2 separate regions of the Homo sapiens genome follow, and region 2 is linked to region 1. The links come from fine-mapping of genetic effects on gene expression. A gene starts in region 1. The other region holds a variant in brackets. All regions are shown on one strand. Distances are between the middles of the regions. Region 1 holds the start of RNF215 (ring finger protein 215). Region 2 overlaps TBC1D10A (TBC1 domain family member 10A).

Evidence for each region. PIP is the estimated chance that this variant, and not a neighbour inherited with it, causes the effect. A credible set is the group of variants that fine-mapping cannot tell apart.
Region 2: its variant is the best candidate, but not a certain one, in a credible set for the expression of RNF215 in lung (GTEx, PIP 0.55).

What each region holds. Positions count from the first base shown.
Region 1 is chr22:30,385,191-30,389,574 of GRCh38, reverse strand. RNF215 (ring finger protein 215) reads left to right here and starts at 2,164. Exons shown (of 9, transcript NM_001017981.2): 1 at 2,164-2,546; 2 at 2,816-2,959; 3 at 3,434-3,505; 4 at 3,586-3,671. The coding sequence starts at 2,262. RefSeq lists a silencer at 2,065-2,424.
Region 2 is chr22:30,312,389-30,316,731 of GRCh38, reverse strand. The region is part of intron 1 of TBC1D10A (TBC1 domain family member 10A); the gene reads left to right. Among named protein-coding and RNA genes, the nearest start is that of TBC1D10A, 12 kb to the left of the region's middle. RefSeq lists an enhancer at 1,835-1,894. The variant T/A (reference allele first, on the strand shown) is at 2,123.

The DNA of each region.
Region 1 (4,384 bases):
TGCAATTTAAAACTTATGAACTGTTTATTTCTGGAATTTTCCATTTAATATTTTTTTGGACCTCGGTTGGCTGAAGGTAACTAAAACCTCAGGTAAGGGGAGACTACTATAGACCAATGGAACAGAACAGAGAATCTAGCTACGTGCAGTGGCTATTGCCTGTAAGCCCAGCACTTTGGGAGGCTGAGGCAGGCAGTTCCCTTGAGCCCAGGAGTTCAAGACCAGCGTGGGCAACATGGTGAAACCCTGTCTCTACAAAAAAAAAAAAAAAAAAAAAAAAAATTAGCTGGGCATGGTGACACACCCCTGTGGTCTCAGCTACTTTGGAGGCTGAGGTGGGAGAATCAGTTGACCCTGGAGGTTGCAATGAGCTGAGAAGGCACCATTGCATTCCAGCCTGGGCAACAGAGAGAGACCCTGTCTCAAAAATAAATGCATAAATAATTTTTTAATGCTTAAACTTTTACTTTTCTTATTTAGGTCTTTAATCTATATGGAATTCATATTTTGTATATGATGTGTATGTAATAGGGGTCTAATTTCTTCTCCTAATGGTTAATTCAATTTCTTAGCACAATTTACCAAACAGTCCATGCTACTGCCTCCTTGTATCTCCACAAACACAATGTTTCCTCTGATGTACACCATCTTTAGATGTGTGGGTCAGTTTCTGGCCTATTTCATGTTCCATTTGTCTGTCTTTAGGCTGATATCGGGGGCTGTCTTATATACCCGTCTCACACTTCTTCAGGAGCAACTTGGTCATCCCATATCAGTGTTCCTACAGGTGTTCACTGTAAAATTCTTTCAATTTTTCTGGAGAAAAAAGAGTGTTGTGGCTCATCTGGCCCAGGTTGGAGTGCAGTGGCACCATCTCAGGTCACTGCAAGCTCCGCCTCCCGGGTTCACGCCATTCTGCTGCCTCAGCCTCCCGAGTAGCTGGGACTACAGGCGCCTCCCAACATGCCCGGCTATTTTTTTGCATTTTTAGTAGAGACGGGGTTTCACCTTGTTAGCCACGATGGTTTCGATCTGCTAACCTCATGATCCGCCTGCCTCAGCCTCCCAAAGTGCTGGGATTACAGGCGTGACCCACCGCGCCCTGCCCACCATACAATTTTTAAAGGCTCAGGTTTCAGACTGAGCCAGCTCCCAGCAGCCCCAACCCTTGGAGAAACGGACAAGTTTTAGAACAGTAGTGGAACTTCCACATTCCAGTAGACATTTGAGTTATTTGCTGGGGGTGAGGCAGTGTTGATTGTACATGGTGCTTATTTATTTATTTATTTATTTAGAGACGGAGTTTCACTCTTGTCGCCCAGGCTGGATTCCAATGGCGCGATCTCGGCTCGCCGCAACCTCCGCCTCCCGGGTTCAAGCGATTCTCCTGCCTCAGCCTCCTGAGTAGCTGGAATTACAGGCATGCGCCACCACGCCCGGCTAATTTTGTATTTTTAGTAGAGACGGGGTTTCTCCATGTTGGTCAGGCGGGTCTCGAACTCCCGACCTCAGGTGATCCGCCCGCCTCGGCCTCCCAAAGTGCTGGGATTACAGGCGTGAGCCACCGCGCCCGGCCTATGGTGCCCATTTCACAGATGAGGGAAGTGACCCAGCCTCTCGGTCCCACTGAGGCACTGAGTCCCTGCCTGCTTCGTTTTGCCTTGCCCCCCAGCCCCTTTCCCCTGCCCCTCTATCTCCCCTGTCGGCTTCCCACGCCAGTCTCTGGTTCTCTGCCTCCTGCTGTTTAGTGGGGTCGAGACAGGGAGGACCGGGGAAGAGAGGGATGTGACTTGGCCCTGGCCACCCCGTGGGTCCACGGGGCTGCCGCAGAACAAGGGCCTGCCACCAGGCCCCTTAGACATCCCTTGCTCCTGCCCTTCTCAGGCTCTGATCGTGTCTCTGCTCCCCCAGGTCGCCCTTTCCAACTATTTTCCTGTCTGCCCCGCTGACGCGTCCGCTGCCGAAGCACCTCCTCTCTCTGACTTTCCGCCTTCCCGCTGCGACCCCGGTTTTGCCCCTCTCCAGCTCCCTCAGCCGCGGGCACCTGAGCTCTCCGCGGCCACCAGGGGGCGCCCGCGGCCCAGTCTGGGCGCGAGAGCCGCCAAGCGCCCACTCCGTTCCTCCTGGTGCCCCGCCCCGTCCGGCCGCGGCCCCGCCCCTCCCGGCGCCCCGCCCCGTCCGGCAGCGGCCTCGCTCCCTCCGATCCCCCCCGCGCCCGGGACCCCTGGCCCCACTGTTGGGCCAGCTCGCCGGGTCCGGCCATGGGCCCCGCCGCTCGCCCCGCGCTGAGATCGCCGCCGCCGCCTCCGCCGCCGCCTCCGTCTCCGCTGCTGCTGCTGCTGCCCCTGCTGCCGCTGTGGCTGGGCCTGGCGGGGCCCGGGGCCGCGGCGGACGGCAGCGAGCCGGCGGCCGGGGCGGGGCGGGGCGGAGCCCGCGCCGTGCGGGTGGACGTGAGACTGCCGCGCCAGGACGCTCTGGTCCTGGAGGGCGTCAGGATCGGCTCCGAAGCCGACCCGGCGCCCCTGCTGGGCGGTCGTCTGCTGCTGGTGAGCGCTGCTGAGCCATCTGGCCGCATCACTAAACCCCTCTCTCAACCCTCCCTAGAGACCCCGCACCCTGAACCGACGTTCATCCTCCACCAAGCCTTGAGAGTCCAGCGCCCCTCCCCAGGCTCCCCAGGCCCCCAGCATTCCGGCTTCCCAAACCAGAGAGCCAGATGCTCTGGGAACTCTGGCCTTGGCATCCACTGTGATGACCCCGGCTCCCTCCCCCACCACACCCTACCTCCCTCTGCTCATGGCCCCTTGCCACACAGATGGACATCGTGGATGCCGAGCAGGAGGCACCAGTGGAAGGCTGGATTGCAGTGGCATACGTGGGCAAGGAGCAGGCGGCCCAGTTCCACCAGGAGAATAAGGGCAGTGGCCCGCAGGCCTATCCCAAGGCCCTGGTCCAGCAGGTGCAGGGGATGTCTATGGGGGAGGGGGCTGGAGGAAAGGATTCCAAGGCATCTGCTAGAGCCAGGCCCTCCTTAGATGGGCCCTTAAGAGCTTGCAGAGAAGCCCTAGGCCTGGTGGGTCAGGGCACCCCAGTTTGAAGAATGGAGTCAGTATGGCTTCGAAGCAGGGAGGTGAGAGGAGGCCAGAGAGAGGTTGAGAAGCTTGACCAGGCTCTGAGAGTATGGGATGGGGGAGCTGCTGCTGACGACCACTGCTGGGACTGCCCTGATAGGACCGGGGAAGGCACAGCGCATCTGGAAGGGAGGCAGGAGGAAGAAAGCAGTTTCCACCTTTGACCTCAAGGAGCTTATGGCAGTCTGTCCAGAGTTTTGCTCACTGCAGGGCCAGGAGCTAAGAGCAGCTAGGGCTGCAGGTGGTGAGACAGGTGTGCAGGCAGGGTATATGCTAGCCTCTCGCCTTCTATCCCTCTGCAGATGCGGCGGGCCCTCTTCCTGGGTGCCTCTGCCCTGCTTCTTCTCATCCTGAACCACAACGTGGTCCGAGAGGTAAATCGGACCAGGCCGTGAGGGTAAGCAAGCTGGGGAAAGGGGGACCCAGGCCTGCTGACCTCCTTGTCTCCCTGCAGCTGGACATATCCCAGCTTCTGCTCAGGCCAGTGATCGTCCTCCATTATTCCTCCAATGTCACCAAGCTGTTGGATGCATTGCTGCAGTGAGTTGGTATTTAGACTTCAAAGGACTGACCCTGGGTACAGAGAGCCCCTGGTTCTCCCATGGACTGAGGGGGCTTGGGACCAGGGCCTTACCTGTTAGCCTTTTTTTTTTTTTTTGAGATGGAGTATCACTCGTGTTGCCCAGGCTGGAGTGCAGTGGCGCAATCTCGGCTCACTGGAACCTCTGCCTTCCAGGTTCAAGTGATTCTCCTGCCTCAGTCTCCCAAGTAGCTAGGATCACAGTCATGTGCCACCACACCCAGCTAATTTTTTGTATTTTTAGTAGAGACAGGGTTTCACCATGTTGGCCAGGCTGGTCTTGAACACCTGACCTCAGTTCCACCTGCCTCGGCCTCCCAAAGTGCTGGGATTACAGGCAGGAGCCCCCGTTGCCACTGCTGCTGCTGCTGCCCCTGCTGCCACTGTGGCTGGGCCTGGCAGGGCCCGGCCTAACTGTTAACTTTTTTTTTTTTTTTTTTTTGAGATGGAGTTTCGCTCTGTCACCCAGGCTGGAGTGCAGTGGCGCGATCTCGGCTCTCTGCAAGCTCTGCCTCCCGGGTTCATGCCATTCTCCCACCTCAGCCTCCCAAGTAGCTGGGACTACAGGTGCCCACCACCATGCCCGGCTAATTTTTTTGTATTTTTAGTAGAGACGGGGTTTCACCATGTTAGCCAGGATGGTCTCGATCTGCTGACCTTGTGATCTACTCGT
Region 2 (4,343 bases), 73 kb after region 1:
GTTGAAGACAGCTACATCTGACATCCTGAGACTGACCGTGGAGTATATGAAAAGTGTTTTGAAGCCTGAGTAACATAGGGAGACCCCATCTCTACATCCCATAATTTAAAAATTAGCTGGGCATAGTGGTGCGCACCTGTTGTCCCAGCTACTTGGGAGGCTGAGGTAGGAGGATCACTTGAGCCTGGGAAATCAAGGCTACAGTGAGCCATTATTGCACTACTGCACTCCAGCCTGGGCAATGGAGACCCTATCTCAAAAAAAAAAAAACAAAAACAAAAACAGTGCTTTGAGAAGTTCTCTATGTGGTACCACGCAAGTTCAGGGGAGTCACCATGGCACATGCCACAGAAACCACTGCTCCCAGCATGCTCTGTTCCTCTTGTGAGAGGACATCTCTGATTGATTGATTGAGACAGGGTCTTACTTTTTTGCCCAGCTTGGTCTTAAACTCCTGGCTTCAAGTGATCTTCCTGCCTCTGCCTCCCAAAGTGCTGGAATTAGAGGCATGAACTACCATACCAGGCTGGACTTCTCTTTGTGTGCAGGATCGGTGTCCCTCAGGACTTTGGGAATGTAATCAAATCAAGGGATGCTTTGATTTATCTAGCTCTTTAGTCTGCAAAGTGCTTTCATTTCCATTGCCTCTCAGTAACCCTTATAGGAGCAATGGGAAATTGGTAGGCTATTATTTTACCCTGTTTCCTGATAAGGAAACCAAGGGTGAGCAAGTGATGGAACAGGGCCTGGCACCCAGCATTCCTCCTTCCTAATTTCCCATCTTACCAAAGTTGGTGACCACTGTGTGGCCTCTCCTCCTCCCCTTCCTGTCCCAGTCTTAGGACTTCAGCCCAGCCCCAAGTGTCTGCACTTCTCCTACCAGGCTTTTCAGGTTGTTTTTGTTGCTAAGTTGTCATGATGGATGACACAATTCCTGTCCCAGGACTCCACACACAGCTCCTCATATGTACCCCAAGACAAGGCAGGAGTAGCTGGGTCGTGAGTGACCCAGTGAAGGAGCATAAGTTCGGAGAACTCCTGTCCCTACTCAGTGCTTTGGGCCTTGGACACTGTGAGTCCAGAAGCGATCTTCCGCGGCCAGCCACTTTTGGAGAATGCTGCTGCTTTCCCTTTCATCTTCGCTTGGCTTCACAAAGAAAGAGAACCTAGGCTGGGCACTGTGGCTCATGCCTATAATCCCAGTACTCTGGGAGGCCAAGGTGGACAGATCACTTCAGTCCAGGAGTTCAAGACCAGCCTGGGCAACATAGCGAAACTGTATCTCTACTAAAAATACAAAAAAATTAGCTGGGTGTGGCGGTGGCATTGGGAGCAGGAGTATTGTTAGGATTAAGGGAGATGTTGTTGGTAAAGCACCCAGCACAGTGTCTGTCACAAAGTAAGGGCTCTGTGGAACATGGCGGCTCTCACAATTCGAGTGTAAATTACCCTCTGAGATTTTACCTCAGACATTTAGCATAATGGTAAGGGAGCAATGCAGCTTTGGGGTGAAAATCTGGCTTCCCTCACGTGCTCTTCCAACCTACCCCACGACCGTGGAGGTTAGGCAGGAGCCAGTCCCACTCAGCTTGTGGTCTGGAGCTTCCTGGCCTGCCAGGGCAGGTTGGGAATCCCCCCATGAGTTCCTCGCTGAGTCATCTGGAGCAGGGCTGTGATCTGAGGGCCTGACCTTCCCTTTCCTTGGTCTGTAAAGATAAGCAGAAGTAAGAGCAAAGGTGGGCATCCCGAAAGATTCCACTCAAGGCTTGCAACCAGAGTGCTGCCCGGGGCCTCTGTCCTCCTGGGTGGTGGTAGTCACTTGGGGAAGGAGTCTGAGTTTGCTTAATAATTACCACCACCCTCCTCTGTGGGTTTTTTGTGGGTTTTTTGTGTTTTTTTGGTGGGTTTTTTTTTTTTTTTTGAGTCAGGGTCTCCCTCTCTCACCCAGGCTGGAGTGCAGTGGCACAATTATGGCTCACTGCAGCCTTGAACTCCTGGGCTCAAGCAATCTTCCACCTCAGCCTCCTGAGTAGCTACGACTACAGACATGCAGCACTATGCCTGGCTAATTTTTAAAACAATTTTGTAGAGACAGGGTCTCACTCTCTTGCCCAGGCTGGTC[T/A]CAAACTCCTGGCCTCAAGCAATCCTCTGGCCTCTGCCTCCCAAAATGTTGGGATTATAGGCGTGAGCTACTGTGCCTGGCACCATGTAGACTTTCATCCTGAGCTTCCTGTTCTGCTTCTGAGTGACCCCCTCCATCCTCCCAGGATAGTCACAGTAATGCCATTTCACAGAGGAGCCTGTATGGTGGACGAGGCTTTCACCTACATCACCTCGTTTAATTCTGTGAGAGTATTTATCATCATAGTCCCCATTTTAAGAAGCAGAAACCAAGTCCCAGAGAGGCAAAGTGACTTGCCAAGCATCACACAGCTTGTGCCTCTGAGTCCACTGAGCTCCAAGCTCCTCAGGAGCAAGGCTGTGTATACCCAGCCTACTGGACAGCACTTGGTGGTGGAGTTGAGTGACAGAGGGAGAGATGAGCAGGGCCCGGATTCACTTTCCAGTGCCATCCCCTGCTTGACTTGGACTTTGGCCAGTTATTGTCTTTCTGAAGAACCTGAGTTTCCTTATTCACAAAAGGGAGTTGATAATTAGAGGATTTATCTCATGGGCTTGTCAGGATTAAATGAAATAATGTAAGTTAAGTGCTGAACACAGTGTCTGGTGCATAGCAAGCGTCTGTTGTTATAACAGACATTCAGTTAAGTTAATTGAATATTAGAATTGTAATGTTATAAAATGCCATCATCAAGCAGATCTGTGCTCAGCCCTGTGCTGGGCTTTGAGGAAGATCTAGAGCTGGTACCAGGCCAGAGAGGGAATGCTCTTTATCAAGTTCTTACTATGCTTTACCCACCTGATATCAAGGTAGAGGAGCATATTCCCTTTTCACTGCTGACAACACTTAATGAAATTCAGAGTGTCTGAGGTCACCAAGCTCATGAATCACTCAACACACACATTTGTTGGCCAGGCACGGTGGCTCACGCCTGTAATCCCTACACTTTGGGAGGCTGAGGTGGGTGGATCATGAGGTCAGGAGATCGAGACCATCCTGGCCAACATGGTGAAACCCCGTCTCTGCTAAAAAAAAAAAAAAAAAAAAAAAAAAAAAAAATTAGCTGGCCGTGGTGGCGCACACCTGTAGTCCCAGCTACTCAGGAGGCTGAGGCAGGAGAATAGCTTGAACCCGGGAGGCGGAGGTTGCAGTGAGTCGAGATTGCGCCACTGCACTCCAGCCTGGGCGACAGAGCAAGACTCCGTCTCAAAACAACAATAACAACACACACACACACACACACACACACACACACACACACACACACATTTATTGAGCACCAGCTAGGTATCAGGCTTGGGACACACTGCAGAGAATGAGGCCAAGAGAGCCCCTGCCCTCCAGGAACGCGCCTTCTCATGAAATGCTGCCTCTGCAGAACAGCCCTTAGGTGGAGAAGCTCCACCTGTCCCACTGGACTGCTCACATTCCCCAAACAAGCCATTCCCTCTCCTATTAACTAGCATTTGAACATACTGAGTGTTTTGCCTGGTGTGTTCTTTCCCCTTTCTCAGCCTAGCTACTTCCTGTCACCCTTCAAACCCCAATTCAAAAGTCAATTCCCCTTTAAAGCTTTCTCTAAACAGCCCGTCCTCACCCTGGGGTCTTTTTGCAGTCTCCTAGCCCCTTCTACATGCTCCTGTGATGGCACTTCTTCTCTGTGTGCTAGTTATTTACCTACCTGTTTGTTGATGCCAGATTGACCTCCTCAAGGGCAGGGACCACATTTTATTCATCTTTGTAGATTCAGGGCCTGGAACACAGGCTCTAGAAAGGTGTGCATGGAATATAATGAGGGCCTGATTGTGTTCTGTCCCTGGAGTAGTTAGGAGAGGCTTTGTAGAGATGAGAAGGAGTTTGGAATGATGCTTCCCAAGATGATGGCACCAAAATTGAATGGGGGTTGAAGGAAGATGGCTCAGGGGTAGGGGCCTATAGAGATGGGACTAGGGGAGAAAGGGATGTGCAGGGGAACAGGAGGGCCTTGAGAGCCAGGGCCTGAAGTTTCTTTGTTTTTTGTGTTGTTTTTGTTGTTGTTGTTGTTATTGTTCTTTGTTTTCTGTTTGTTTTGTTTGTTTTGAGAAAAGGTCTTGCCCTGTGACCCAGTGGCCCAGTCTAGGGTGCAGTGGCACAATCATGGTTCACTGCAGCTTCAAACTCCTGAGCTCAAGTGATCCTCCCACTTCAGTCTCCCGAGCAGCTGGGATGACAGGGCGTGTGC